4 linked regions of the Homo sapiens genome follow. The protein of the gene in region 1 purifies or fractionates together with the protein of each later gene. This does not show direct contact. Each region holds a gene or a part of one and is shown in the gene's direction. Other genes may lie near its edges. The genes, in order: ALS2, WDR20, PDCD10 and RAB5A.

Evidence for each region.
Region 2: the proteins of ALS2 (region 1) and WDR20 purify together in Homo sapiens (affinity purification with mass spectrometry; one large-scale study listed by BioGRID and IntAct). This does not show direct contact.
Region 3: the proteins of ALS2 (region 1) and PDCD10 purify together in Homo sapiens (affinity purification with mass spectrometry; one large-scale study listed by BioGRID and IntAct). This does not show direct contact.
Region 4: the proteins of ALS2 (region 1) and RAB5A purify together in Homo sapiens (pull-down; one study listed by IntAct). This does not show direct contact.

Annotation. Positions count from the first base shown.
Region 1 is NC_000002.12:201,758,390-201,766,184, reverse strand, and holds part of ALS2 (alsin), read left to right. Parts: intron 1-357; exon of another isoform or gene 358-532; intron 533-2,574; exon of another isoform or gene 2,575-3,471; intron 3,472-4,366; coding exon 4,367-5,304; coding exon of another isoform or gene 5,305-5,382; exon of another isoform or gene 5,383-6,733; intron 6,734-7,795. UniProt on the Homo sapiens protein: May act as a GTPase regulator. Controls survival and growth of spinal motoneurons.
Region 2 is NC_000014.9:102,192,975-102,200,769, forward strand, and holds part of WDR20 (WD repeat-containing protein 20), read left to right. Parts: intron 1-488; coding exon of another isoform or gene 489-540; intron 541-1,963; coding exon 1,964-2,146; intron 2,147-2,152; exon of another isoform or gene 2,153-2,899; coding exon of another isoform or gene 2,900-2,930; intron 2,931-4,780; coding exon of another isoform or gene 4,781-4,873; intron 4,874-7,795. UniProt on the Homo sapiens protein: Regulator of deubiquitinating complexes. Activates deubiquitinating activity of complexes containing USP12. Anchors at the base of the ubiquitin-contacting loop of USP12 and remotely modulates the catalytic center of the enzyme.
Region 3 is NC_000003.12:167,694,250-167,702,044, reverse strand, and holds part of PDCD10 (programmed cell death protein 10), read left to right. Parts: intron 1-4,918; coding exon 4,919-5,036; intron 5,037-6,322; coding exon 6,323-6,449; intron 6,450-7,795. UniProt on the Homo sapiens protein: Promotes cell proliferation. Modulates apoptotic pathways. Increases mitogen-activated protein kinase activity and STK26 activity. Important for cell migration, and for normal structure and assembly of the Golgi complex.
Region 4 is NC_000003.12:19,969,035-19,976,829, forward strand, and holds part of RAB5A (ras-related protein Rab-5A), read left to right. Parts: intron 1-1,513; exon of another isoform or gene 1,514-1,683; intron 1,684-6,566; coding exon 6,567-6,718; intron 6,719-7,012; coding exon 7,013-7,135; intron 7,136-7,795. UniProt on the Homo sapiens protein: The small GTPases Rab are key regulators of intracellular membrane trafficking, from the formation of transport vesicles to their fusion with membranes.

The DNA of each region.
Region 1 (7,795 bases):
AGAGACTCTTGCTATAACTTTTGTTCATTAAGTCTATCAGAATACTAATGCTAATAATAGCTAATGTTTGTTAAGCAGTTGTATGCCAGACACTATACTAAGCCCCATGTGTTAGTAGATAACAAGTTAGTGAGATAACAAGTTCCATGTGTTATCTCACTGAATCTGCACTGCTACCTTATGAGGTAGCTTCTATTATTATTCACAGACAAGGAAACTGAAAGTCAGGGAGATTAAATTTTCCCAAGCACACACAGCTATTGAAGTGTCAGAGTCAGGACTGGAACTCAGTCTGATTTCAAAGCCTGCTTTTAAAGCCACTTGGCTGAACTTTCTCAATATAATTTTTTTTTTCAGGCATGAATAGCAATTCACAATGCATATTATAAAATCTATGAGTCTATTACCGAAACGTGTGCTGTAATTTATAGAGGTACCTTTAATCTTAATGGCACTTTATCAACTCAATCATGACAAATTTGACTTGGGCACCAATTGCCATCTACTTCACTAATTTATAAATTTCTGCTCTGTAAGTATTTATTAAGGTATTAAATAATGCTTTGGTATTTTCTTTCTAGGAACTAAAGGAAGACAAATTCTAGGAAACAAGGATTAAATCTGGTCCTGGTGGTTGTATGGGATAAACATGGATTTCTTTCTAGTTTGTCTTATATCAGTTTTATTATAATATTATTCTTCAGGACTTTAAAAACAATCTTACTTTAAAAGTGTGAACTATATTCAATACCTGTCCTATGAGATTTAAAATATATAGTTCTCAAGCAAATATAAGTGGAATTCTGTTGTTGTTTTCAATAAGATATTTGGAATATTTTCATTAAGCTAATGAAACTGGCTGGGCACAATTGCCTATGCCTGTAATCCCAGCACTTTGGGAGGCCAAGGCAGAAGGATCCCTTGAGCCTAGGGGTTCAAGATCAGCCTGGGCAACATAAGGAGACCATGTTTCCTGGGCAACATAGGGAGACCATGTTTCTACAAGAAATATTTTAAAAATTAGCCAGGCATGGAGGCCTGCGCCTGTAGTCCCAGCTACTTCAGAGGCTGAGGCAGGAGGATAGCTTGAGTCTGGGAGACCAAAGCTGCGTGCAGTGAGCTGTGATTATGCCACTGCACTCTAGCCTAGCTGACAAAGTAAGATCCTGTCTCAAAAAAAAAAAAAAGTTATTCGACTATAAACATGGTATCTTTAGAATCATACCTTCAAGGCTAGGACAACTGAAGGAAAACTTTTCAAAAATATTTAAATAGCCTATCGTTATTCATGTTTAAGCAGTGTCCTGGTATTAAGTGTCACAGTTACCAAAAGAAAACGTCGTCTAACACAAGTGTATGTTTGAAATTGCATACGGACCTCCAGTGCTATCTTTTCCAGCTGAGGAAATGGTTGAGTGCTAGAAATTTTCAAGGTTCTTCATCTCTATTAAATATGACCATTAGCTCATAATTCAATGAAGATACCTCATTGATTCACTTTTATTTATTTATTTATTTATTTATTTATTTATTTATTTATTTATTTATTTTGAGACGGAGTCTCGCTCTGTTGCCCTGGCTGGAGTGTGGTGGCACGATCTCAGCTCACTGCAACCTCCACCTCCTGGGTTTAAGCAATTCTTCTGCCTCAGCCTCCCGAGTAGCTGGGACTACAGGCCAGTGCCAGCACTCCTGGCTCTTTTTTTTTTGTATTTTTAGTAGAGACAGGGTTTCACCATATTGGCCAGGCTGGTCTCAAACTCCTGACCTAGTGATTCGCCTGCCTCTGCCTCCCAAAGTGCTGGGATTACAGGCGTGAGCCACTGCACCCAGCCTGTTTCACTATTTTTTATATGCTCCAGTTTTTGTTTTTGTTTTTTAAGGAGAGGGATCTAAATATCCATTTCTTTGCAGTATTGCTCTTTCTAGTGGAATAATGTTAATTGAAAGACTTGGTGAGCTTTTTCAAGTATACTGTTGTATTAGGAAACAAAGTTTAAAAGAGCTTAACCAGTGAGCTTATTTTCTCATGTCAGTATTCTTGAACCAGACTATACATTTCCTAATAAATGCACATATCTTCCCTGTAGCCACTATTGAGTCCTTACTTATATAGATGATGTGATGAGTTAACTTGAGTGTATACATGTATCTGCCATGTATAATAGGTCAAAGATAAAGTTTGCATGTTTTCATCATCAACTCAATTGCTGCCTTATGAGAAAAAAAACAGTGCTTATTTCTTCATTAATTAAAAAAAATCATAAATCTCTGGTCATATGGAAAAGAAAGGATAGTGGGCTTGGCTCAGTATTTTTTAAAACCCGTAGCCAAGTCTTTGTTTCATTGAATTTTTAGCCAGCATAGCTTATGTGTACCTGCTCCCAAGCTCCCACAATACTACAGTAAAATTAAGACTTGGTAGCATAGCTGGACATACATGAGTTATTTATATACCCAACTCACTGGTGCCTTTCATTAATTCTAAAGCTAGCCAGTTATTCTGACAGGTTCATTTGCTTTTTTGCTTTGTTCTGTTGTGATGATTTGCTTTTTATTTTTAACATTTTTTAGGCTTACTTCACTTTATTTTTCTTGTATAAAAACCCTATGTTGTAGCCACAGCTAGAGCCTGGGTCCTCTGTCTGGAGACTCTGGTGTGGGTCTTGACGAGGTGGCCAGTGAATTCCTGATACGGAGACTTGGTGAATACAGTCTCCTTCCAGAGGTTGGGGGCCAGTTAGCTGTAGGTCTTGGAGATGGCATCATAGGTGGCCTTGGTGAAGTTGGCCAGGGTGGCAGTGCAGCCCCTGGCTGAGGAGTAGCAGTCATCGATACTGGCCATCATCAGCAGCTTCTTGGGCACTAGGGCTAAGAGAATGCCAGTGCCTCTGGGTGCAGGGATGAGGCGCACCAGCACAAAGCCACAGCAGTCTGTCACCTTGCAAGGGACTGCGTGGTGCTTGCTGATCTTGTTCCCCCAGTAGCCTCTGTGCACGGGGACATTGGAGAGCTTGGCCAGGATGATAGTCCCTTGGATGGCAGTGGCCACCTCCTTGGAGCAAGTGGCCATTGTAGTCCCCAGTGGCAACAAACACCTGGAATCTGGTGTGCTGGCCAGTGCGCGTCTGCTTCTGCACTGGCACAATCTTCAAAACCTCATCCTTGAGAGAGGTCCCCAGGAAAAAGTCAATGATCTCAGACTCCTTGATGGGCAGGGAGAAGTGATAGGTTTTCAGCAGGACTTCATCTTCGTGTCTTTGACCAGGCAGCTCAGCTTGGTCATGGGTGTCCACTCCTTATCCTCAGCCTTGCCTCCTTGAGCTCTGTGGCCCCGACCCTGGCCCCAGATGCCACTGCCCAAGCCTCCATGGAAGTCACTGTGGTTCCCCATCCCAGGGTCTCTGGGGCCTCTGGGCCCTCCTGCTGCCCTAGCTTCATCTGCCATTTGATGTTTTTTCAGAGAAGAAGCTGATTTGCTTTTTAAACAAATCTCACCTCAGAAAGACTAGCTAGTATCTAGTACATAAAGTCCAGGGTGAGCATCCCACATTAAAAAATCTGAAATCTAAAATGATCCAAAATCCAGAACTTTCTGAGTGCTGATGTGATGGTGCTCAAAGGAAATGCTCATTGGAACATTCAGATTTGGGATGCTCAGTCAGTAAGCATAAGGCAAATATTCCAAAACCTGGACCTGAAATCCAAAACACCTCTGGTCCCAAGCATTTTGGATAAGTGATACTCAACCTGTATATTTATGTAACATCTCAAAACTATATATAATGTGACATACAAAGTGAAGACAGCCATGTCTTGTTAAGAACTGGTGCTTCCTGTACAGCCTAGAGGCATAAAGTTAATTTCTTAGTTTTGGCCAAAATGAATCGCTAATATTTTTAAGCCATTGCATAATTTTTTGCTGTTCCAACTTGTTTAGTAGTAGTGAATTGTAGATATTAGTGAATGTGTCTGTTTTGTCTTATTTTTTGCTTATTTTATCTTAACATGGTTATTTATTTTGCCTTTGAACACTTGGAATCTGTTTCTATAATAGCCTGGATGATGGCCGTTAGGAGTGGATTGATGTGAGGAGTTTGTAGGATGAGGCTGAAGGAAAGGATTAGCCTCCTGCACTTTGTAGAAATTCTCACTATAGTGCAGAATATTAAAAAGAGTCATTTTTAAAAAGATGAATTAATGTGAAATACTGTGTGCTTGAACCAGATTTCTACAACTGCTTTTGAAAATTTAAAAAGAAAATCCAATTTGGTTAAATCTATAGGGGACTAAAAGTTTGCTGTTAAAATTTTTAGTTAATTCACTAACCCTTTTTTTTTTCTTTTTTCTTTTTTTTAACCTTCAGATGGTGAGGTCTACAGCTTTGGGACTCTTCCCTGGAGAAGTGGACCAGTGGAGATTTGTCCAAGTAGCCCCATTCTAGAAAATGCCCTGGTTGGGCAATATGTTATTACTGTGGCAACAGGAAGCTTCCATAGTGGAGCAGTGACAGACAATGGTGTCGCGTACATGTGGGGAGAGAATTCTGCTGGCCAGTGTGCAGTAGCCAACCAGCAGTATGTGCCGGAACCAAATCCTGTCAGCATTGCTGATTCTGAGGCCAGCCCTTTGTTAGCAGTCAGGATTTTACAGTTGGCGTGTGGCGAGGAGCACACTCTGGCATTGTCAATAAGCAGAGAGATTTGGGCATGGGGTACCGGTTGTCAGTTGGGTCTCATTACCACTGCCTTCCCAGTGACAAAGCCGCAAAAGGTAGAACATCTTGCTGGGCGAGTGGTGCTTCAAGTTGCCTGTGGTGCTTTCCACAGCTTAGCCCTTGTACAATGCCTCCCTTCCCAGGATCTGAAGCCAGTCCCAGAACGATGCAACCAGTGCAGCCAGCTCTTGATTACTATGACTGACAAAGAAGACCATGTGATTATATCAGACAGTCATTGTTGCCCATTAGGTGTGACACTGACAGAATCTCAGGCAGAAAACCATGCCAGCACTGCTCTCAGCCCCTCCACTGAAACCCTTGACAGGCAGGAAGAAGTATTTGAGAACACTCTTGTAGCAAATGATCAGTCTGTTGCTACTGAACTGAATGCAGTAAGTGCTCAGATCACAAGCAGCGATGCCATGTCCTCTCAACAAAATGTCATGGGAACAACTGAAATTTCCTCTGCCAGAAACATACCATCATACCCTGACACCCAAGCAGTCAATGAATACCTACGGAAACTGTCAGATCATTCAGTAAGAGAGGACTCAGAGCATGGTGAAAAGCCAGTGCCATCTCAGGTACCTGCTCAATTTTATAAAATAAAAGTGTGTCTAGAGTTGAACTGTATGGGCTTTTCTTTAGAAACTTTAAAATGAGTAAGGCTTGGTAGCATTTTTTATTTTTTGAGTTTGATTATAATTTTGTTTTATCAGGCAAGCCTAGATAAAGGAAAGAACCTGGATTAATTCAAAATCACTCTTTATGTTTGTTCTGGCCCTTTATGATATTGAAAGGTGTCATGTTGGGCTTGTTTTATAAGTAGGAGCATTTCATTTTTTTTTCTTGCTAGTACTTTTTTTCTATGGCTAAAGTACTGAATTTTGGTGGGCCCTGAATAGTTTAATATAACTAGAGATTCACAAAGATTCTTCTTACTTGTGTTTGTAACACTCTTCAGAATTCTGTAGAGAAAAGTCTTTTCCTTCTTTAACAGGGAAGATTGTTTTGTGGCAGATCCTTCAATTGTAGGCAGATTTAAAACTTACAGGCAATTACATGTTTCAGTTTTTTTCAATTATAGCTGTGGTCCTTACTGGGCTTAATTTGAAGAGGTGGCTAATATTTTATCTTTTTGTTTGTTTGTTTTTGAGATGGGGTCTTGCTCTGTCACCCAGGCTGGAGTGCAGTAATGCGATTGTGGCTCACTGCAGCCTCGATCTCCCAGGTTCAAGCGATCCTCCCATTTCAGCCTTCCAAGTAGCTGGGACTATACACATGCCACCACACCTGCTGATTTTATTTTTAAGTAGAGTAGAGCCTGTTGCCCAGGCTCATCTCAAACTCCTGAGCTCAAGCAATCCTCCCACCTCAGCCTCCCAAAGTGTTGAGATTACAGGCATGAGCCATCATGCCCAGCCTATTTTATATATCTTATTAAAACTATTTTCATTTTGAAGATTTGTGGTAGAATGAACAAAAGTTGTTTATCAGTAGCACATGGTAAAGTTTGAGTTCCCGCTTAAACTAAATTGTTTTAAAAGGATTATTTCTGTGTTTTACTCTTAGTGTGGCCTTTTGATTTTGCTTTACCAAAACTGTAAGAAAACAAAACAAAAGATCATACTCATAAAAGATCTGTCCTGCAGTGTTTCTTTTTAGGTTTTTGAAACCACATAGCCTCTTGATTCTCAATTCTTATTGTTTACTCTGTCAGAATGTGAACATGAAGGTATTTTTAGAAATAGTCTTTATTTCACAATCTATTCACTGAAACTTGTGGGTATTTGAATTTTTAAAAAAATCAAGGATAAGCTGTTTGGAGAAAGGTATTATAAAGTCTGAACAAAGCAAAAGTAGTAGTTTAACAAGAATGCATGTAGAAAATTCTTAGACTGTACATGCTTATCACATTTTACTTACTTTGTTAAACATTGGAAGTTTTTGTTACTTATGCTAGTAACAATGTGTGTGTTTCTATTGAATTAAATTTAATTTATTTAAATTAAATGTGTGTTTCTATTACATTTAATTTATTCTTTGTAAATAACATCTCAATCATACAGCTAATTCACAAGGAATTTATTTGTTTTAGGGCAAGTTTTTTCTCTTCTGGCGAGATATAACTGAGACTCTCTCACTTGGGAAATAAACCAAAGTATTACTGGTTGACTGGAACTCCTAAAATTATATATTTCATCAAAATTGCTAATTATGTTTTTTGTAGGGGAGGGCTTATTACTATATTTTTAAATATAATTAAGTAGAAGGAGCCAGTTAGAACAGTAGTTCAAGGTTTATATAAGGTAGAGTTTTGTGACTTTGCTGTACCTAGTGGTTAAGAACCCCCTAAAATAGTTACCTCTAAATACCATCACTGCTTATGTAAGGAGCCTTTGTAAACAAAAAGTGGACATAGTGACACTAGTTCTTCTGAACAAGCTATCGTGGGAGCTGTATCACCAAAGAAGTAATAGGCTTTGTATTTCTTTTTCGTTTTATTAAGTATATTTGTTTATTGACTATTTACAGACTAATTTGCATGGAAATAGCTCTTTTGAATTTAGCGTTTAATTCAACAAAATGTTTTGAGTACTTACATGTCAGGCACTTCGCTAGGTACCAGGAATTATTTCCTTTAGGAAGTCAGATGCCAATGTTAAAATATACAAACAAACACACACACACACACACACACACATGCGCACACACACACATTATATTTGTATTTTAGTTTAGGACAAATGAAGGAATGTGTATATTCCCTTTGAGATCTTTGGGTACAATAAGAAGCAAATTTTTCAATATGATCTATGCTGATGAGCTGAAAGCTTTTTTATGTGTTTGGTAGGTACATTTAATGACCTTCCTTTTTAGGGAACAATGATGTTTGACAGCTTAGAGTAAATTTCAACTGATTTTTTCATTAAGATATCAGAAAACTTTAGTTTGACTTTCTAGTACACTTCTAGAATCACACTAAGAACACTGGTTCCAAATGTTTAATTATTAACCTACCACATTTGCCATCTGTGGTAGCAAGAGCAAAGGTAATCCTACAGCTTTTCTAGC
Region 2 (7,795 bases), on another chromosome or scaffold:
TTTTTTATTTTTCTTAAGCAAACTAAAAAAAAAAAAAGTCTCAAGAGTTGAATATGCTGATACAGTAATTATGTATAACTTAATTGTTCGTATTTCAAATTGGATTTTTGTTCTCTAGCTGCCAGTTATATCTTATTTTATATTTGTAGGTTTTTTTTTTGTTTTTTTTTTTGTGGCTGTCTTCCTCGTTCTGAGATGAATGGCATGTGGTGTTCTCTCAGGCCAGGATTCTCTTTCCCTGCCATCCGAGCCGCTCAGAAGCTGCCTTCCTCAGACAGCCTGTCCGTGGCCATCGTCCCAGGCCCCGCTGCTCACTCGCAGCACTCGGCTGAGCTGCCTTCAGCCTGCCTTGCTGTACAGCGGCCGCTCCCCTCCACTGGCCGCTTTTCTCCTCGCTCCAGTCAGGACTCCCTTTTGTTTTGTATCATGCTTTGTATTACACTTTTCAAGGCTCTTTCATGTATATATTCTCTTATTTCATCCTCCAGACAATCCCATGAGGTTGGTAGAACAGAGATTCTCATCTCCGTTTTAACTGAGGTGAGGCTGGGAGAGTGTCCGCATGGCATGCACCCTCATTCCTTTGCCCTGGGGCTCCCAGAACTACTTGTTACCGCTCAGGTCCAGACTTCTACATGTGCAAGGTTTTGAGTTTGCTCAAAGACGCCTGTAATTTTGAGGTCCTCTTTTCTACTCATTACTTATATTTGTTATTGGAAAGTCCAACATTAGAATACTTGGTTCGATGTCACAGGCCTCTTTGGAAGAAAGAAATCTTCAGAACCTGAGGGGGCGGTCAGTAGAGAACTAGAGCCGGGAGCCCCAGAGGGCCACACAGCGTGAACTGGGTGTCTTGAGGGACAAGTTCTGCTTCAGGGTTAGTTGTCTCCACTGGAGATTTTCAGACAAGAGTGGGAGGGGGTGGGTTTCCCTTATTTCACCAATAAAAGCCCAGCATATTGGGATGCCACAGGACATTTCTCATGAAGAAAAGAATCCTTCTTGAAAGTGGGGAGGGCACATTGAAAAATCACTTTTCACCCAAGTGAGAAATCATTTGCTTTTGACTCTCTCTCCCCATCCCCTTAATGGTCAAACAGACCTGGGTTCCAAATCCAGCCCTGCCACTTACTTAGGTAGGTATGGTGACGTTGGTCAAGTTATTTAACTTCCCTAAACTTGTTTTCTCATCTGTAAAATGGGTAAAATATTGTCCACTTTGGAGCATTATTGTTAGGATTAAGGACAATGCATGTAAAGTCCTTTGATTATGGCCTCGATAAGTAATGTTCCCCGAAACCTAATCCAGAAGAGGGATTTTGACCCAGGAAGGGAGCCACCTGTATAGAGTGGGCTCCAGCAGTGGTTCTTAGACTTGAGCGGGCATCAGAATCACCTGGAAGCCTCTTTACGACTTGCTGGCCCTACTCCCATAGTTTCTGATTCATTTAGTCTGGGGTGAGGTTTGAGATTTTTGCATTTCTAAGTTCCCACATGCTGCTGCTGCTGCTTCTGGTTTGGGGATTACACTTTGAGAACCACTGGGCTGCAGGTAACTGGCCAGTGGGCATGTAGGTGCTGTAGATACATTTGAAAGCCGAGCTTTTTATGTGGTTACTCTGTTAGACACTGCTTGAAATGCATTTTGAAAATACTGAATTTAATATCTCAAGGATATTTCCTGCTGAAGTCCAGGAGTCTTTGTTACATATATTTGAAGGAGAATAAGTTGTGAAAGTAACAGTTGTAAACATATTATAGATAGTCTAATAATATCTAATTGGCTAAGGTATGTGAAAGTGCTTTTATAAAATGTTAGATGATGTTAAGTCACAACTGAAAAAACATTTTAAATCACTTTGTTTTTAAGATGAAACATCATAATGGAGTATAAAGTAGCATAACTTAGATTTCTCATCTCAATGTGCTGTTTACTGTATGTATTTTTCTCTTTCTCCTCCAGGCTGCTGACTTGAGTAAACCAATAGATAAAAGGATATACAAAGGAACACAGCCTACTTGTCATGACTTCAACCACCTAACAGCCACAGCAGAAAGTGTCTCTCTCCTAGTGGGCTTTTCCGCAGGCCAAGTCCAGCTTATAGACCCAATCAAAAAAGAAACTAGCAAACTTTTTAATGAGGAAGTAAGTAGCACCCTGTCTTAGCTGTTAAGAATCCCTTTAAGAGTTGATACATTCTTACCGAGGGTAGTCGGCCTTATTTTGCACTTCAAGCTAAGCCCATTTTTTATTCGCCCAGCCCTCCTACCTAGTATGCCCAAGTTTAAATGTGGTGGATTAATTTGTTGACCTTACCTGTTCTTCCTTGGGGTGACTGTTTTGTGCATTTTTATGGAGCATGCTCAGGTGTCTATAACAGGTGTTTTAAAACTCTTCTATAATGGAGATAGGGACAGTACTGTAACTCGGTATTTATAATTTAAGTAAGAAAATGTGGAATTCCAAAGTTGGTTCACATCACCAGAACATTTCATGCAGATCAAAGAACTTGATGACATTTCCTTAGGCTGCTTAAATTGTAGCCAAAGCTTTTGTATGTATGTTTGACAGTCATTTGGCTAAGGAGTACTTCACTTGCTCTTGAAAATAGTTACTGTAAACTCATCTTTGACATAGTTGGAAATCCTGGCGCTTAAAGTTTGGTCACATGACATAGCTTTTGCCAGTGTTGTAGTATGTACTGGGGTTTCTAGTATCTTCAATTTCATTCTGGAAAGAGCCTGAGATATCTGAGCTGTCTGTTCAGGAACATGTCAGGACTGTTAAATGTGGCATATAGAAATTGCCAAGTAGATTATATTTTTTAAAGCTGTTGGAGCATCTTTCAGCCTCAAGTATTGCTATTTCATATTTAATATTCTTCCTCGTCTGTTTCAGTATGACTTTTCTACCAAGTGGAAAAGATAAGGTAGGCTTGCTGAGTTAGAAGCCCTGGGTTCCAATCTCTACTTGGGACCTTGCCCCTGAGGCGCAAGGGTCAGGCTATGTGGGACCCCCTCCCTTTTGCATTGTTGCATGGTTTTAACATCATTAACTTGGAACAAAAACACATTATAGAGTATGGTTTTTAAGAAATAATTTTGTTTGGGGAAGAAAATTCAAATTGACAAATGGCAGTTAAAATTTGGATTCTTTTGCAGTTATGGTACTTGCTATTCATGCAAATCAGTATCCACCCAGGGTGCTCCTGTTTGACATTGCCAGTGGATTTGATAAGATCTTATGAACCATGCCATCTCTTCTAGTTTCCTCTGAGTTGACTGGAAACAAAACTTGCCATCTGGACTGACAGATTGTAGAGGAAAAGTATTTAATCCCATTTTCCATTAAAAAAAAGTTAAGCAGAAAATATTTTATTTACCTAGATGTTTTTTTAGTATCATCTGCAGAAGTGATTTCTAAGTAGCTGGATGATTATTTTTTTGGTGCTGAGTTTGGGGAGCAGCGCACAAAATTGGCCTCCTCTGCACTGTTAGCAGAAATTGTGAATTTGGAATCATTGTGGGTTTTTATTGTTTAGGTAGGGGAGAGTGTGATTGGAGGGGGCAGGGATTGGAGCCATGTAAGGGCTGTTAGTAAACAAGACCCGGAGGCAGCCCTGGCCGAGGATGGTACAGAATGCCGCTTAGAGAACAAGAAAGTTTTGTGTGTCGTGGCAGGGGGAGGGCAGGGAGTTGGAGACCACACGTCCCCAGAATCTCAGGGCTCTGGGAGCACTCAGGCTGCATTGGCCAGAACTATCCCTGCCCTGGTGACTGGGAGTTGCAGGCTGGAAGGCAGCTCCTCATTCTTCATGATTTAAGCATGAGTTATCTCATACTCACTTTACATTTTATTTGAGAAATTGCTATTTAGAATGCTAAGACTGTGTGTGGTTTAATGCCAGCTTTGCATTTACAGCTTGAGGCTGAAATCGATTGCCCTTCATAGTAAGGAGATCCTCTGGCCATGTGGATACATTTTTATCAGATTTTGGTCAGAATGTCTAAGAGCAAGGGTCACCGGAGGTTTGTTCCTTAGAGAGTGCCAGGAATGGTGGTGAAGTAGTCATCGTGTCGTGCTTTGCTGTGGTGTGACATTTACAGGTTTCAAGGCACTTTTACCTATGGCCTCTACAGGGAGGGTGGGGAGTTGTTCCCATTTTACAGATGAGGAAATAGTCAAAGAGCACATAAGTGAATTGTCCAGATCAGGTAGCAAGTTGATGATAGAGTTGGAACCAGAAATTAATTCCAGAAACTCATTGGTTACAGGACCCACCATGCATGGTTGCCAGATGAGCTCTTGCCCTTCCGGGAGCTCACAGTTTAGTAAGAATGGACAGAGAGTACTGGGCACGTGTCAGCACAGCGATATGAACAAAATACCAAGGGCTAGCTGCCGCAGGAATTCTTTAGTATGCATTTTAAAGTTTTTTAAAATGTTAAGTTCACTGGGGGAGTTCCAAGAAATGCTTTTAGAAAGTGATGTTTGATGTGGGTCTTAAAGGGTACATAGTCATTAGAGGAGGGTAAGGAAGGCCTTCAAAGCTGGAGGAACAACTAGGCATGTGAAAGAACATCCAGTAACAGCTTGGCCACATCACAGTGTGGGACTTGGAGTGTCAGAGTTCGAAGCTGGAAAGATAAATTGGAACCAGCTTGTCTTATAAAAGCCTTTTCATGTCACGTGAAGCAATTTGGAACTGACACTGGAAGATGTGGGGGAACCTTTGGCCTTTTAATGAAGGGAGTGACAGGATCAAATGTGTTTTTTTAGAACTCTTGTCAGCACTTGTGGAAGGTGGATTGGAATGAAGAAAGACAGAATGAAGGTAGCAAGACCAGTGAGGAGGCTCTAGTAACTGTCCAGGTGAGAGCTGAGGGCTTGAACTAGAGTTGCGGCCATTGTTTCATTCATTCAGGACCTTGACTACCTACCACATGCCCAGCACTGGGTCTGCAGCAGTGGGCAAAACCTGCCCTCCTGTGACCCCTCTCAGGAGGGAAGAGAGGTATAATAGCACCACCCCCGAAACACTGGTGACCACAGATGGTGACACTTTGTGATGTAAGAGGCAAGAGAGCAGGCCCAAGAAAGGGAGAGAATCACAGAGGTCTACTTTATTTATTTATTTATTTATTTATTTATTTATTTATTTATTTATTTATGAGACAGAGTCTTACTCTGTCACCCAGGCTGGAGTGCAGTGGCGCAATCTTGGCTCACTGCAACCTTCACCTCCCAGGTTCAAGCTATTCTTGTGCCTCACCCACCCAAGTACCTGGGATTATAGGCCACCTGACTAATTTTTGTATTTTTAGTAGAGACGGGATTTCACCATGTTGGCCAGGCTAGTCTGGAACTCCTGGCTTCAAGTGATCCACCCACCTCAGCTTCCCAAAGTGCTGGAATTACAGGCGTGAGCCACCACGCCTGGCCAACACAGAGGTCTACTTTAAACTGGGAGGCAGAGGACATCTCTCGGACGAAGTGCTATGTTTTAAGCTGTGCCTCATGTGAGAAGAAGGCCAACCAGGTAAGGAACTGGAGATGGAGCTTTCCTGCAAAAGGAATAGCACATGAGGGCCCTTGAGCCCAAGGAAACTGAAAGAAGGACGGTTTACCTGGGGAAGGTGGCATGAAGTAAGGGCATGAGATTGGAGGGCCACATCACCTACGGCCTGATCCAGATTTGTTTCTTAGCCTGAAGTACGGGATTCCTTAGAAGGGAGCAGGTGCACAAGGCAGGCAGATTGGTGTTTTTGAAAGGTACCCTGGCTGCTTTTTGGAGACTGAATTGGAAAGGTGTATTAATAAATCAGGTTTCTGGGTGTCTCTTGCTGTGTTGGGTGAGACTGGGAAAGGAGCAGTTGTCAGGGAATGGAGGGGAAGATCAGAGGTTCTGGTCTGTACTTGCTAAGTTCGAGAGACCTGTAGATAGTGGGATGTATGGATCTGGAGCACAAAACTAGGGGTTACAATTTGGCAGTTGTCAGCATAGAAATAATAATCACATCCTTGAGATTAGATGAAAGGTTCTTTGGAGAGATGATGGTGAGAACAAAGAAGGCCTGGGTCTGAGGCCTGATTATACTCCAAGATTCTGGCCATCTCAGCTACTGCTTTCAAAGGGGCACTTAACACACAGTTAATTACCACGACATTTACAACTTCACAGCCCAGAATGCTGAGGGCTCGGACACCAGCTCTGCCACTTTCTGCTTGCAGGATGATGTGGGTCTTACCTCTCCTCGGTTGGAAAATGGGTGGGAACAGCACCCACCTGAGAGGTTTGTGATGAGGCTCAGATGAGTGAGTTCAGGCAGGGTGTTTGTGAAGGGCCTGAAGAGCGAGCCTTGGTGGATGCTCAGCAACGTGGAGGTTGAGAGAAACTCAGGCTTCCTTTCCTGGGAGGGGTGGTGTTGGACGGAAAGGGTTCCGTGGGAGGTGAGATACCAACCGTTTTGAAATACAAATAATTAATTTTTTAGGACAAGCAGGTAGGAGCATGGCAACCCAGGCAGAGAGTCAACATGTGTGAGGCTGAGGGTTGGCCCGCTGGTCACAATTACAGCAATGTGGCCTTTCAGTGTTCCTCACCAGAACACCTCTCAGACCCACCTGTTACCACACGTGCACACACCTTCACACACCGAATCCCCAGCATCAGTTACTCTGGCCTTTGCCTCCTTTCTGGTGCCTGGTACATGAAAATGTAATAAATGTTGGGATGGAAAGATGAGTGAAATGGAATTATAAATTTCAGAAATCCACCTGAGATAAACATAGATGAAAAATTCCCATCTGGGAACAAGTATATTTTAAAAGATGATTTTCCCCCTGTCAATTAAAAATTGTGTGCATTTAAAATGCTTGTTGATAGAAAAATTGGAAAATAGAGAGGTACAAAGAAGGTAGGAAAGCATCACCTCTAAACCGTGACGCTCACTGTTGACTTTCACAGTCTGTGATTGTTTTCAATGAGGGGACACCATAGGGCTCACACCTTCCATTGGGGGTGAAGGCAAACTTCACCAAACTTCATCTCCAAGTCTGGCCCTGATCAGGTCAGCCCAGTGAGCATGGGCAGGCCCTGCCCTCTTCCCGCTCCCTGGGACTGTCCTCAGTCACACTGGAGGTCCTTGCTGGTGCATCTGTTCAAGACCCAAAGAAAGTCGAATGCCCAGTCCTTTCTAGCCCCTCTCAGGAAATCATCCCCAGCTCCCTGGAGTCTCTGCTTTCCCCAATCTTCCAGAGTAGATTTTGGGTTTCTGTTTGTAGCGTTCTGTACATATGATGCCCTTGAAAATGTCTAATGGGCCATTATTGAAAGTATCTTGGCGCACGGTTCATCTGACAAGCTCCCAGATCGTGGAGCGTGTCCTCATCATCAGAGCTGCCCACAGAGGAGAGTCACCCGGTCACATTCAGCTCACTGTGGTGAAGCACCCCACAGGGGCGAGGAGTTTACTTTTTAAATTTTTTTTTTTGTGTGTGTGTGTGTGTGTGTGTGTGTGTGTGTGTGTGTGTTTCACTCTGCCCTGTTCTGAAGTTTGCTTTTTATAACTAATGGTTATATATTTGGGGAGGAAGAGTTACAAAGGGACAGTTCCTATATGGTAATGAATGCAACCTTGTTGTCTGTGTAAAAATCCTGATTTTGGAGTATATTCACAGAATAGTAACTTTGAAGGATTTTCAAGTATGTGTTAATTGTTGGCTGAAATATAAAATGTTAAAGAACTTGGCATTTGGCTTCTTTCGTTACTGACACGATACCCTCTGCTGTTG
Region 3 (7,795 bases), on another chromosome or scaffold:
CCTTGAATAAAGAGAACTCTTCTGCTGGGTTGTCTAATGTCCATTTGTTTTCTGGCACTCCTTTGTCTTCTTCCTCATTGTCCATTAGCTCTTAAATTTCTCTGATATCCATATCTTGAAACCTTTCATCCTCTACGTTTTTTTTAACCATATCTACAATCTCTTTCATGATTTCCGTGGCTCTGTTGTAAATCCTGTGGAGTCATGCACAACATGTGGACACAGTTTTCTCCAGCAGAAATTTATTGTTTTAGGCTCGATGGGTTTTTCTATAACAACAGTAGCATCAGTGGTGTAATTCTTCCAGACTTTCATGGTATTCTTTCTACCAAGGATTGTTGACAGCCATTTCCATAGAGGCCTTATGGTTCCATGTATAATGAGCTTTAAAGGTTCTTGATCCCCTGATGTAGAGGCTGATTTAGAGGTGTGGTGTTTTGGGACAAGTAGGCCACTTTGATGCCTTTCAGTGTTGAACTCATGGGGTTCTGGGAAGCAAGGGACATTATCCAGTATCAGAAGAATTTTTTTGAACAACAATAATAATAAAGGCTAGGTGCGGAGGCCCATGCCTTGTAATCCTAGCACTTTGGGAGGCTGAAGTGTGAGGCCAGAGGCCAGAAGTTCAAGACCAGCCTAGGCAACATAGGAAGACCTTGTCTCTAATTAAATATACAATACATATATATGTGTGTGTATGTATATGTAGATATCTCTGATATCTATATATATATCTGATATCTCAATATATATCTGATATCTGTAGATCTAGCTATATAGAGATATATAGGTATCTCTATAGATATATATAGACAATCAGAAGAACTTCAGAAGACCATCCCTTCCTGCCAAGATGCTTTCTAACCGCAGAAACAACGCATTGATGGTACCAGGCTAGAACAAGGGTTCTCTTTGTCTAGGTCTTCTTGTACAACCACAAGACTGGAAGCTGGTGTTTTTCTTCTCCCTTCAAGGCTTGAGGGTTTAGCAGCATTATAAATAAGGACAGTCCTGATCATAAACCAGACTTCATTTGCACAGAACAGTAGAGTTGTCCTATCTCTTCCTGCCTTAAATTCTGGTGCTCACTTCTCTGCTTTACTAATAAATATTCTTTGTGGCTATTTTTTCCTTCAGAATAGGGCACTTTGATCTGTATTAAAAACCTTTTCAGGCAGATATTTTTTTCCTCAAAGATTTTCTTAATGGTGTGTGGGGACTTATTTGCTGCCTCTTGGTCATCAGAATCTGGGTCTCCTGTTATCTTGACATTTTTTAAGCAAAACCTCTTTCTAAAATTATCAAACTATCCTTGGCTGGCATTAAATTCTTCAGCTTTAGACTTTCCTTTTGCTTTAAGTTGTCATAGAATGACTTTGCTTTTTCTTGAATCATATTAGGGTCTATAGGTATGCCTTTCTTATAGATATCCTGCACCAACATAAAAGCTGCATTTTCAACAGGAGACAAAAAGGTATTTCACAAAACATGCAAGGTTTTTGTACCTGCTGATGTAGCTGCAGCAATGGCTTTGTTTCATGAATTTCCTTTTTTTTTTTTCTTACAGTGAGTCTTAGACTGTATTCAAGCAATTCAGTATCATGCAATACACCTTCTTGTAATGTCATGACTTTGCTTCTTGAGCACACTTCCAACATCACTAGTGGCACTTTGTCGGGTCCCATGGTATTATCCCATGTTTAAAGTATTGCACTAAACACGATGAGAAAAATATGTGAGGGCTGGGAGGTATTACTTTGTACTGGGATGTGCAGTTTGCTGGAGAGATGAACTGTTCACATGGAGTTGATTAGAGTCACATGGCGTTTTAATCATATACTTACTAATACTTGAACTGACTGCAATAGCAACAGGAGGTGGCTTCAAACTTATTACATATACACGTGTACTACAGTTAATTTTGTGCAGTTATGATTTAATATTGCATCTGTATATTTGTTTATATTTCTTTTAACTGCAAATAACACCATGTACAGTCTGTTTGCGTGTGAGTTTTGATAAATTTTAACTTTTTAATAATTTGTATCTATTTTATAGTAAATACTAAAATAGACTAGTGGATAACTATATTTTATGCATTCATAACATGTGTTTTTATTATTTTTTTCACTACTTATAGGCTACTCAGTTTGTCTATAAGTTTTTTCAAATTGTTGCTGATCTCCAAAAATTTTTCCTATATATTTATTGAAAAGTATCTGCATGTAAATGGACCTGAGCAGTTAAAACCAGTTCTTCAAGGGTCAGCTATATTCTACTTGATTCCCTCTCCCCCTTATCCTCTATGAGAGGTTCCGATAGGTTGTCCGTCTTCCAGACTGAGAATCACTGATCCACAAGAGTGTATGTTGCTGCCCTTCGGTTTATTTTTTTCTTACAGCTGGATTCTTTACAAAGATTAGACACCCTACAGGGTTCATGTTGTATTCTGAGGGAAAACCTAAGAGTTGTAGATTGTCTCCCTGATTTAAGACCATATTTATTCATTTTGTCAGTCAGAGCCATTTGGTAAATTCAAGCTTTTGAAATAAGAATTAGCTTAACCAGGTTTTTAGCCAGGAGGTACTGAGACTACTCCTTCCAAACTATGTACTGAGGTACCTGGTGGCCCATAGCAAATTCAGAGGGGTGCCACGAAGTATTTTAAAATTGTGAAGGTGTACAGTGATACTCAACATCTGTTTGACACTGCATGGACTCCTAGCTTGAGATGGATTGCAATTTAGCATATTGGATTGTCCTTCACTGCTTTCATTGGTGTTAGATCATTGAGAAGCTGGACTTTTTGGCCAGTGCTATGATCTAACAGAAGTACCAGAAAAAAATATATCTGCAAGAGGAAATGAGAGGGGCAAGGTCCAATCTAAGACCAATGTTTGAGAAATTATGAAGTGCCCAGTAGGCACACACATCCCAGTAATAAGTGACAATAGTTATTTAAGAACAGAGTAAAAATTGTTTTTTTCAATTTATGTGTATTATTTTTTTAAAGGCTAGGTAGTTAGGACACTATACTTATTAAGTTGTTTAGACCTAAGTATTTAATAAACAGCACTGTGAGGTGTATCTTTTGGCACTAAGGACACTGAAAACTGAGAAAGTTAGGGACCTTTGTGAGACTTTTGTAATGCTCTAGCTTTAGCATTTTGGGGTCCCAGACCAGCTTGGTATTGAAAACTTTATTCTCAGACTTTCAGCATTTTAACCTTTCAGTACTTTATTATAACTTAATCAGAGATATGCTTTTCTTTTTCTGTCCCCTGCAAGCACATAGAGAATGTTCCCCCTCTCCCCAAGATAATTCATTATGTAGGAAGATTTATTGCTAGATAAGATAAAGTATTGTTACTGAATGCTACATTATATGTAATTTTGTGGCAGTTCACCGCATTAATGCTATAACAACACATCTTAAGCCATATTTGGACATCTTATAAAGGAAACTCCTTTTTTAAAAAACACAGTTTTTTTTGTTTTGTTTTGTTTTTAATACGAGGTCTTATTCTGTATCATAGGCTGGAGTGCAGTGGCATGATCATAGCTCGCTGCAGCCACGAACTCCTGGGCTCAAGCAGTCCTCCCATCTCAACCTACCAAGTAGCTGGGACCACAGCCACACCCCACCATGCCTGGCTAAAAAGTAGATTCTTTTTAAAATATATATCCATGGAAGGAAAAGTCAACATAGGCTGTAAAAGAAACAGGATTCAGTCAAACACAGTTTATTGTTATTAATCATCTATCAAAATGATTTTCCTGAATAGTATCTGACAGCATTTAAAATGATCCGAAGATTGGAATAAATGCGTGTATTTTCTTTTCTCATTTCATCCCACAACCCTTCAGTTTTTGATACTTGAGATCTAATGAGAAACAAGATGTTATAATGGAAAGAGCAATAGGAAGAGAAGAAAACTGTATCTGCAGTGATAATCAATGGAATTGAAGAGGCGGAGGTTAAGTGTGCTTGACACATAAGGAAACAAAAAGATTGCCATCTGATTAAGATCGTAAATTGTGTTTCTATTTTGCTGTTTAATATTAGGGCAAAAAGGAAAGAAAATCATCAGCATAATGATTAAAATTGGCAGGCATCCTACAGGAAACAAACATCAAGTGTGATTACAGAATTTACTGGGAAAAACTGAAATCTGAAGATTAACTCTGGCTTTGGTAAACTCAGAACTCTATGCCCAGTCTTGAAATGGCTAGAAAATTTTAGTGTCTTGGGGAGTCTAAGTAACATAGAACCAATGCAAACTCAATGAAACAAGCTCAAAAGGTAGTAAAAGGTTTCATGATGTTCTAGAAACCAGTGAAGGAAATATTCTTGCTACAAAAATAAAATAGGAAATGAAAATCATTGTGTGGGAAAATAGTTAAGGTATTATTATATAGGTTCAGTAAAACCTTCAAAATAAATCCTTTTTTGTTTTTCCTGGCATTCTCTTAATATAAATGGAAAGAATATGCAAAACACTAGTCAGATGAGTTATTGCTTGATCCTTGAGTTGCAGTATTAGCACATTAAAAAAAGCTTAAATTCTCAAGATATTTAAAGTAATGAGAATAGCAATTGATAGATTACTAAAACATATATAATCCTTAATTCTATCTTTGTTATTAGTTCAATTGCAAAAGAGTATAAAGAAGAGTAGAAAATACTAAGTTCTTTCTGTTCAAATGGAAAATGGAACCTTAGTCATAGTAAAGAGTCGGGTGCACAAGCTCTAACAAAGCCTTAGTGAATGCTATCATGACACCTGCTTTACAAAGATTTCTGCCCTTAAAAGTTATCAGTGTAAGACGCTCCCAACAGATTCTAAACAATTAAACTTTGGCTTTAAAATGTTGATTCCTTATCTGTATTTCAAAACTAGTTTTCTCTTTATTATAGGCTGAAAAAGAAAATCCAGGTCTCACACAAGACATCATTATGAAAATTTTAGAGAAAAAAAGCGTGGAAGTTAACTTCACGGAGTCCCTTCTTCGTATGGCAGCTGATGATGTAGAAGGTAACGGACAGAAGAACCTTGTTTAAGTTATACAATTGTTAAATAGCACTTCCTCTAAATCATTATTATTTGACCAAAGGATCTTCCTTCCCTACTGTTTTCCCTCCCTCCCTTTCACTTATGATGATGATGGTGGTGGTGGTGATAGTGATAGTGGAAGCTAATGTAGATAAAATAGAAAAATGGTTTTTCTTGCTTTTTATATTTGTGAGATTTAATTACTTGAACTTTGTTTATGCTGCATACTTCAATTTTTCCCCCCTTTATGTTTGGTGAGTTTCAGTTTTACTAAAAGATAAGCTTATTTGGAATGTGTTGACTTTAAGCAAACAACAGTTTGAAAGTAATGAGGTTTTTGTTTTGTTGTTTTTTTAACTTTAGTACAGCATCTGTGTTTCAAGCACAGATTTAAGAGAATAATATAACCATCCTTTTTACTTTTCTTATTTTTTTTACTTGAAATTATTTAGACGTTGGTTTTACTTAAGTTTAGTAGCAGTTTTCCCACTAATTTAGAAAAATATGGACATATAATTTCCCAGAATTATTAAGGAAGAACACAAAGCAGGTATTTTAACTGATTCCATGATTTTAAGAAAGCCCTTATCATTATTTAGAGTTGAGCATTTGCAGCCCATTAGGCCATAATATATTGATGAATTGGTAGAGTTGTAATGCTTCCAAGTCTGCAATGAATCTAGTGAAGTCTCCTTTCCAAAATTGGTGTTCTGTGATCCCAGCCTGTGTGTTGGATTTGTGCTGGTGTTTTTGTTTTTAAGTGAGATTTCAAAAATGTGTAGAAGATTTTATTAGATTATTTGGGGTTTTAATATGATGAAGCAATGTATATTAAATATAGGGGTTTTAAATTTTTAATCTTTCCAGTTGGCAAGTAGATATTACCTTTGCACTAGTTATGACACTCATTATTTAATTTAAGGTTTCCTTGGGAAATGTAATGTCAGAGTACGGTTGAACTTAAGCCTCCCTTTTAAATCTGTTTTTTTTTTGTGTGTTTTTTTTTTTTAAGATTTCATGGGATGTCCTTTTGTCCCAAATTGAAAATATTTATTCTTTCTTTTTGTGATACTTTACTTGAAGGGAGCCCTGCTGTTGTTACTGGACTAAGTCAAACGCTAATGAATTCTGCTTTGCAACCTTGTCTTTCCTAATTATCTGGCCTTTCACCTCCCTCACCTGCCTTTGACCAACATTGGAAATTCTTAGATGTGATGAATTTGGCAGAGAGTCGCAGGATGTTTTTTATTATGTATTTATTTTATCAGAGTATATGATTGAACGACCAGAGCCAGAATTCCAAGACCTAAACGAAAAGGCACGAGCACTTAAACAAATTCTCAGTAAGATCCCAGATGAGATCAATGACAGAGTGAGGTTTCTGCAGACAATCAAGTAAGCAATTATTTGTTTTGTTTCTTCTTTTCTTAAAAGTACTTCCGAGGAACTACTCATCTACATTTTTTAATTTTGGTATGACTAACTTGAAATGCTTATTTGAAATAAAATCTCAAATTTTTAAATACCACATTTTATTAACTTTATGGCGTTTGGTTTCAGAGTACAGCATTTTTTAGAATGTTTAATTTTAAAACAACAATGAAATGTGCATAAACTGGAATGTAGTTTGAACTACATAAATGATGGGAAGATATAAATGTCAGATAAATGAATAGAGAAACTGGATATATCCTAGAGATTGGTAGTAAGATATACCAAAATAATTTTTATTTCAGAAATAGCAGCAGTCATTAAGGTAAGTAACGTACTCTTAGGCATGAGTAGTGTTTTCTAAGACTGACCAAATAGCCTCTAAATCCTTGCCTTTGGGGGATATAGGTTAAATAAGACCAAGAATACTCATGGGGCCAGAAGGCTGGCTGGTGAGCAGCAGCAAGAAGGGTCATCCTAGAGCAGTAGTTCTCAGACCAGGGACACTCTTCTGGAGTACAGTGAAGGGTGAGAGGGTAGGGGATTGAGTGAAAACATAATCCCTACATAAGTATCTTTAAACTAGAAAGTCTGATAATTTTCTTCAGCCTCAGTGGATAAAAAACAAAGAAAGCTGGGAATACTTGCAGTGTCACTATCAATGCATGGTTTTGGTGAAACCATAGGTAGATATTGCTGGGGAGAAAAGATTTAGCGCAGGTCTTTTTCTGGAAGAGGCTGTGACATATGTGGTAACTTTGAAGAACCTAAGGAGACTCACTTGGAATAAATAGTAACATTCATCTTTTGGAGTTTGGGCAGTGGGAGGAGTGGCAGCAGCCAGGCAGCCCAGCTTTGTGAAGGCCCTCAGCATGCCATGGCCCACATGCATCTGATATGCGCCTTCCCCACTTCCAGGATGCCCAAGAGGACGGTCAGCTCAGCTGATGGGACAGTGAGGGAAGATCCCAAAAGGAGATTGATGTGGTTGTCAGCTAAACCTGCTCTTTCAGTAGTGGAAATTGAAGCCCCAAAAGGTAGCAGGAAAAGATAAATCTTCAGGCAAAAAAGTGCAAACAAAAGAGAAAAGAGTAGGAAAGTGAAAACAAGCCAAAGTAGCTAAGAATAAAGATTTACCTGCAGAAAACAGAAAAACTAAAACTGAAGAGAGTCCAGCCTCTGAAGCAGGAGAGAAAGAAGCCCAGTCTGATTAATATCGCATACCATGTCTTATCAGTGGTTCCCCGTCTCTCTTCTTACATAATCCAGGAGAATATTTTTATCAACTATGTTGTAAATGCATGTTTTTT
Region 4 (7,795 bases), on another chromosome or scaffold:
TTTTTTTTTGGTTTTTTTTTTTTTTTTGAGATGGAGTCTCACTCTTGTTGCCCAGACTGGGGTGCAAAGGCACGATCTTGGCTCACTGCAACCTCCGCCTCCTGGGTTCAAGCGGTTTTCCTGCCTCAGCCTCCCAAGTAGCTGGGATTACAGGCGCCCACATCCACGTCCGGCTAATTTTTGTATTTTTTAATAGAGACAGGGTTTCACCATGTTCCTGGCTGGTCTTGAACTCCTGAACTCAAGTGATCCACCTGCCTCGGCCTCCTAAAGTGCTGGGATTACAGGCGTGAGCCACCATGCCTGCTGTATTTTTATTTTTTCATTATGCTAATTTAGGAGATAAAAATTGTTTTGACTATGTGGATGATTTCATTGACTACTGGTCTCCTTTTCTGTTCTTTTGTGAATTGTCTTTACACATTTATCCCTGAGGTTCTAAAGTTTTTCTAAACATTTATAATAGCTTTCTACACATTGAAAATACTAATCACTTAGCATCCATTGTAGAAATTTTTCTCATTAGGTTTGCCCCTTTGTTATGGATGTTATGACACAAGTTTTGCAAACCTGAAGTTTCATATTTTTGTGTAATCAAATCTGTAGTCTTATATAGAATTTTGGTCAATTTTAATAAAGCAATTCTTTCCTGTCAATTTTGATAAATAATAAGTTTGGGCTTGAAGTTGTATGGTTTCTCAGTTTTTGTATTTTTCCCCTTTCTGTTTAATTCATGTAGAATCATTTTAGTTATGGGGTGGCGGTTACTTTGTTTTTCTTTTTTTTCTTGAGACGGAGTCTCACTCTGTCACCCAGGCTGGAGTGCAGTGGCACAATCTCGGCTCTGCAACCTCTGCCTCCCGGGTTCAAGTGATTCTTCTGCCTCAGTCTCCTGAGTAGCTGGGATTACAGGCTCATGCCACCATGCCCGGCTAATTTGTATTTTTAGTAGAGACGGGTTTTCACCATGTTGGTCAGGCTGGCCTTGAATTCCAGACCTTGTGATCCACCCACCTCGGCCACCATGCCCGGCTAATTTGTATTTTTAGTAGAGACGGGTTTTCACCATGTTGGTCAGGCTGGCCTTGAATTCCAGACCTTGTGATCCACCCACCTCGGCCTCCCAAAGTGCTGGGATTACAGGCGTGAGCCACTATGCCCAGCCACTTTGTTTTTTAATTATTAATCTTTGGTTTAATGCCATCAATTTGAATATCCTTTCCCTTGCCCAGTGTGTTACAGTGTCTTCCCCTGGCTTACTGTTTAAGTCTTGCATATTATAATAGGCCTTTGGTATTTGCAGATTTGACATTTAAAGCTTCAGCTATTCTCACCTGATTCCAGGGTCTGTGGTAAAGTAATTTGTAGTTTTGCTGAGGCTGAAATGTTACTTGCTTGCTGCCAGGCTTGCAAATAGGAGCTGATCACGTAGCTCAGAGGGAGCCTATCAGACAGGCCAGCACCCACATCTCAACGCAGCTTTGTTTTTCTCTACTTGTCATCGCGTACACAGTAACTCTCGAAGTGATAAAAGCTGTTTCTTTGTGAAATATGGGCCCGAAAAGAAAACCAACTGCTAGTGCTGGTGATGGAAGTGAAGAGAAAATGAAGCGGTCTAAGAGTGATGGTTCTTAGCCAGAAAATAGACGTTTTGGATAAATTAAAGTGGTTTTACAGATTCAGGTAAGTTTGTGGTTGGTTAATGTTGCTACAGTATTGATGTAGTAGTTTTATCTTTTCAGTGGCAGAATTTGTTTACGTAACTTTATAAATTACTAGTAATGTATTTTTAGGAGCACTGAGGATTTGAAGATGTCACCTAAATGTCAGTTACACTTCACCGAGTTTTATAGGGGAAATTAAACACTGTAGTGGAATTTGGCCAGGTGTGGTGGCTCATGCCTGTAATCCCAGCACTTTGGGAGGCCAAGGCGGATGGATCACCAGAGGTCAGGGGTTCAAGACCAGTCTGGCCAACATGGTGAAACCCCATCTCTACTAAAAATACAAAAATTAGCCAGACGTGGTGGTGGCCACCTGTAATCCCAGCTACTCGGGAGGCTGAGGCAGGAGAATCACTCGAACCCAGGAAGCGGAGGTTTCAGTGAGCCGAGATCGCGCCATTGCACTCCAGCCTGGGCAACAAGAGCTAAACTCCATCTCAAAAAAAAAAAAAAAAAACACTATAGTAGTATTTTAAAACTTTAGGACTTTGAGAAATCATGAACGTCTTAGGGTGTATTATGTATATCAAGAGTTTATTATAGTGGGCTACACTATTCCAGTAATATTTCTGTTCATTTAGTACTGTAGCACTTTTCATTTTTTAAAGTATATTATAAAACTGATTTTCCCTGGCCTCTAATGTTGGTCTTTTCTCCCCCAAAATTATGCTTTATCATACCACATGAACAGTAGTACGGTGGTGGTGGTGGTGGTGGTGGTTGTTGTTTTGAGACAGAGTTACACTCTTGTTGCCCAGGCTGGAGAGCAATGGCACAATCTCAGCTCACTGCAACCTCTGCCTCCCGAGTTCAAGTGATTCTCCTGCCTCAGCCTTCCGAGTAGCTGGGGTTACAGGCATGCACCACCATGCCTGGCTAATTGTTTTTGTATTTTTAGTAGAGACGAGGTTTCGCCATACCGGTCAGGCTGGTCTCAAACTCCTGACCTCAGGTGATCCACCTGCCTCGGCCTCCCAAAGTGCTGGGATTACAGGTGGAAGCCACCGCACCTGGCCCAGTACAGTGTTATCAGGTGAAAAATATCTTGATGTTGTTTTTGAGGTTGTGTTACAACTTGAGTAGATACCTTGTGAAATATCTATTTTTTCACATTTGGGAGCTGCCTCTCTCTACATTCAAATGTTATCTGAAGTAGCCTCTAAATGGTTCCATGTATCTTTTTGAACTTCCTTCTTTTAGTAGACATTTTTGAACATCTGTATGAACAAGGATTTATATTAAATGTTGGTACAGAGAGGAGCTACTACAAGTTGAGCATCCCTAATCTGAAGTCTGAAATGCTCCCAAATTCTTCGAGCATCAATATGATGTCACAAGTGAACAATTTCCACACTTAACACCTTTGCTTTCTGATGAGTCAGTGTACATAAACTTGGTTTAATGCACAAAATTATTTTAGCTTCAGGCTATGTGTACAAGCTTTATGTGAAACAAACGAATTTCATGTTTTGACTTGGATCCCTTCCCAAAAATATCTCATTATGCAAATATTACAAAATCTTTAAAAATCCAAAACATTCCTGGTTCCAAGCATTTCAGATAAGGGATACTTAACCTGTGGTCATTGCTCAAGTAACTCCCAATCAAGGAGAAGAAAAAGATATAAACCAATGATTATAAAAGGTGTGAAACGTTATTACACAGAGAACTCTGGGAGCACAGATGTAGGAGATATTAACTAGGGTGGAATGAAGGAAGGTTTCTAAGCAGAGTTGAGGAATGAATTGATTATCTTCTTTGTTAATCTGAATGGGATCCATTCCTGTTCAGCATGATTTCCCTTGGTTTTGTTCCTAGATTTAGGAATGATGCCCTGTTTTGCCATAAGGAAGAATCTCGTGTGTTTATTAGGAATGGATATTGACTCAAATGCCTTTTTGTAATTTGTTTAAATAAAATGGATTTTTCTTCATTAGCCTGTTAATGTAATAGTTTTGTATTTCTGAAAGAATGTACTTGGTAATGGGCATTTGTTTGTCTTAATGTATTTGTTGCAATTTCTTTGTATTTGGCATTTTTGTACATGTATGGTGTACATGTATGGTGGCCTCTTGTGTCTTTAACTGGCTTGAGAATTGGATCATATTTTCTTTAAGGCAACATCTCTAATACAGTTGGCCCTCTGAATCTGTGAGTTCCACATTTATAAATGCAACCAACTGCAAGTTGAAAATATTAAGGGGGAAAAAATTAACTTAGCTCCAAAAAGCAAAAATTAAATTTGCCACACACTTAATACTATGTTGAATCTATGTGGATGACGTGAGGTGCAGGCATTGTATTAGATATTATAAGTAATCTAGAGATGCTTTAAAGTATACAGGAGGATGTGCTTAGGTTATATACACATACTTTGCAATTTTATATCGGGGACTTGAGCATCCTCAGATTTTGTTATCCATTGGGGATTCTAGAACCAGTCCTTCATGATATATGGGGAGGTCCTGGAAACAGTCCTCCACAGATACTGAGGGATGACTATAGTTATTTCCCTGAGCCTGAAGTTTACTTATGGACGTATAAGTGAATGTTTTTAGTACTAGTAGACTTTGTGATCATAGTATGTCTGAAAAATGAAACAGTCTGTGCACATTTTAATTCCTTTTTTTTTTTTTGCAAGTCTGCATCAAACTATACTTGAAAAAAGGCTTATGTATTGTGACTTATTTTCCTCTTTTCCTTTTTGGTAAGAGTACTGTCTTAGGGACTTAATTTTAGTTTAAAATTTTAGTTTAAAAACATTTTTTGATCCTACAGGAGAACCTCTCGTGACCTTCAAAAAGTGACATAGTGCTGTCTGGATATCCTTTACCATAAATACAATATTTTAGAAAATGGACAATTCTGCTAATTGTTGGTTAAAAAAAAGTTTGAACTGGATTAGAATATATTTACAATGTGATTAATGAGAATTCATAAAACTATTAATTAGAATCTAGGTCCAAATGAAGATGTTTACAGTATTGTTTGCAAAATTCAGAAGATTTTAGTTGTTGATACTAAAGCCAGCAACCAGTTAACCTAAAAGAGCGTGAAAAATAAATGTTGTGTCTAACGTAAAAGAGATATATCTCATTAGACTTTGTTTCTTTAGCACATTTGATACTGGTTAGTACATCTCTATCAACGTCACTAGATAAACGGCTGTAATTTAGAGAAATATATCATAATTCTTTTGCATAATATGACAGTTTTAGAAAATGGTAATTCAAGTGCATACCAATTTGGAAATAGGGCTTGAATATCACACCTTGAGCTAAATGTAGAAGGAAGGGAGGAGCATACCAATTTACAGTGAATGATAGAGCAGCAGCAGAGGGCGGTCTAATGGCTGTGTGTAGGTCTTTTAATTTTAACAATATTGTATCATTTTATAATGCTACTTTTTTTTTTTTTTTGAGACAGAGTCTCTGTTGCCAGGATGGAGTGCAGTGGTGCGATCTCAGCTCACTGCAACCTCTGCCTCATGGGTTCAAACGACTCTCCTGCCTCAGCCTCCCGAGTAACCGGAACCACAGGCAAGCGCCACCATGTCGAGCTAATTTTTGTATTTTTAGTAGAGACAGGGTTTCACCATGTTGGCCAGGATGGTCTTGATCTCCTGACCTCGTGATTTGCCTTCCTCAGCCTCCCAGAGTGCTGGGATTACAGGCATGAGCCACCACGCCTGGCCTATAATGCTACTTTCCTAGTGTTAAAATTAGAATCAGGGAAAGTACAGATCCAAAAAATTCTTATGGCAGGGAATGAAAGGTAGGAGCAAATATTGAATCAACTGAACAAATTAAATCTAGGTTAAGGTAATAATGACTACCACAATTAAAGTGTCACAATGTTTTAAAAAATAATATAGCAAGAGGCCTGGTACGGTGGCTCACGCCTATAATCTCAGCACTTTTGGGAGGCACTCCAGCCTGGGAGATAGAGCAAGACTGTGTCTCAGAAAAAGAAAAAAAAAGATAATATAACAAGAAATACTAATTTGGTGGTAACTGACTGGGACTAAATTGCCAGTGTGCGCCAATAAAAACTAGTAAAATGGAACAGGACATGGTGTCAGCAGTATAGATGGTACTTTTAGGCACACTGGGTTTCCCCCAACTTCATTTTTTAAGACTATCAGTGCATTTCTTTAATTGTAGAGCAATTTTGAAATGCAGTCTTCGCTGGGCTTGGTGGCTTACGCCTGTCATCCCAGCACTTTGGGAGGCCAAGGTGGGCGGATCACCTGAGATCAGGAGTTCGAGACCAGCCTGGCCAACATGGTGAAACCCCATCTCTACTAAAACTACAAAAATTAGCCACGTGTGGTGGTGCATGCCTGTAGTCCCAGCTACTCAGGAGGCTGAGGCAGGAGAATTGCTTGAACCCGGGAGGCGGAGGTTGCAGTGAGCTGAGATCACGCCCCTGCACTCTAGTCTGAGACTCTTGTATCAAAAAAAAAAAAAAAAAGAAGAAGGAAAAGAAATGTAGTCTTAAGTTTATTTAGTATTATAACAAGCTTTTTTAAGATGCAGAAGTTTTTCAATCTGTGATTTCACTACAAAGGCCCTATATGTAAGCATATATGTAAATAGCTTAGAAGCACAGGTTTGCCAGTATTTAAAGCTATTATCAGCTGTGGGTATGCAATCTGTCAAGTTTCTAGGTGTTTTCTTTTTTTTTCCCCCCTCATTTATTACTTTTAACTGACACATAATAGTTGTACATACTTACGGGGTACAGTGTGACATTTTGATAGATGTATACAAGCAGGTGTTTTCTATATTATGAAAACATTTGGAGAAAAATGATTGACTTATTGTAGTCCTTTTCTTTCAGCTGCTTTTCTAACCCAAACTGTATGTCTTGATGACACTACAGTAAAGTTTGAAATATGGGATACAGCTGGTCAAGAACGATACCATAGCCTAGCACCAATGTACTACAGAGGAGCACAAGCAGCCATAGTTGTATATGATATCACAAATGAGGTAAGTATGGATGCATTCCACAGTAAAACTAATTTGAGTACCCACTTTTGGTGTTCAGAATTTTGATTAAATGTTTTGGAAAATCTTTTTCTGATAGTCATGACCTTTCTGCTGAAGCTTTTGTGAATTAGAAAATCTGGTTTTAAAAAAAAACGAAAATGTCTCATAATACAATAGTCCTAATAATTTCTTTCCCACAGTCACTTGGGACAGTCTTTTAAAGCCTTGTATCACAAAGATGCTTGGTAACCATTTTTTGAGCCTGTGCTCAATGGCTGTTTCTTTGTTTAACAGGAGTCCTTTGCAAGAGCAAAAAATTGGGTTAAAGAACTTCAGAGGCAAGCAAGTCCTAACATTGTAATAGCTTTATCGGGAAACAAGGCCGACCTAGCAAATAAAAGAGCAGTAGATTTCCAGGTATGTTAAATTTAACTCTCATTTGAAAGGCACTTTTTTCCTGTATGTTTTTCTTTCATGTCAACACTTGAATTAGTTATAATGTCAAAACCATGCAAGTAATAGAAAATACTGATTTTTAAAACAAATATAAAGTACTACATATAATAAAATGTTTCTGATAAACCTAAATTTTTAAATAGATTATTGTAATATATAAACTGACCCAAAGATTTTGTAGACTTAAACAATAAAGGCCGGGTTCAGTGGCTCACGCCTGTAATCCCAGCACTTTGGGAGGCCGAGGTGGGTGGATCACCTGAGGTTGGGAGTTCAAGACCAACCTAACCAACTTGGAGAAACCCTGTCTCTACTAAAAATACAAAATTAGCTGGAGATGGTAGTGCATGCCTGTAATCCCAGCTACTTGGGAGGCTGAGGCAGGAGAATCTCTTGAACCCAGGAGGCGGAGGTTGTGGTGAGCCAAGATCACACTATTGCACTCCAGCCTGGGCAACAAGAGCAAAACTCCGTCTCAAAATAAAAAAGAAAAACAGTAAAAGTAGTCATTGTTCACAGTGCAGAAAGTGATTGTATCCTGCCCTAATTCCTCCATCCCACACATACTTTATGTCCTAACCCTCTTCTACTCATGTGCAAATATGTATCAGCACATGTGTG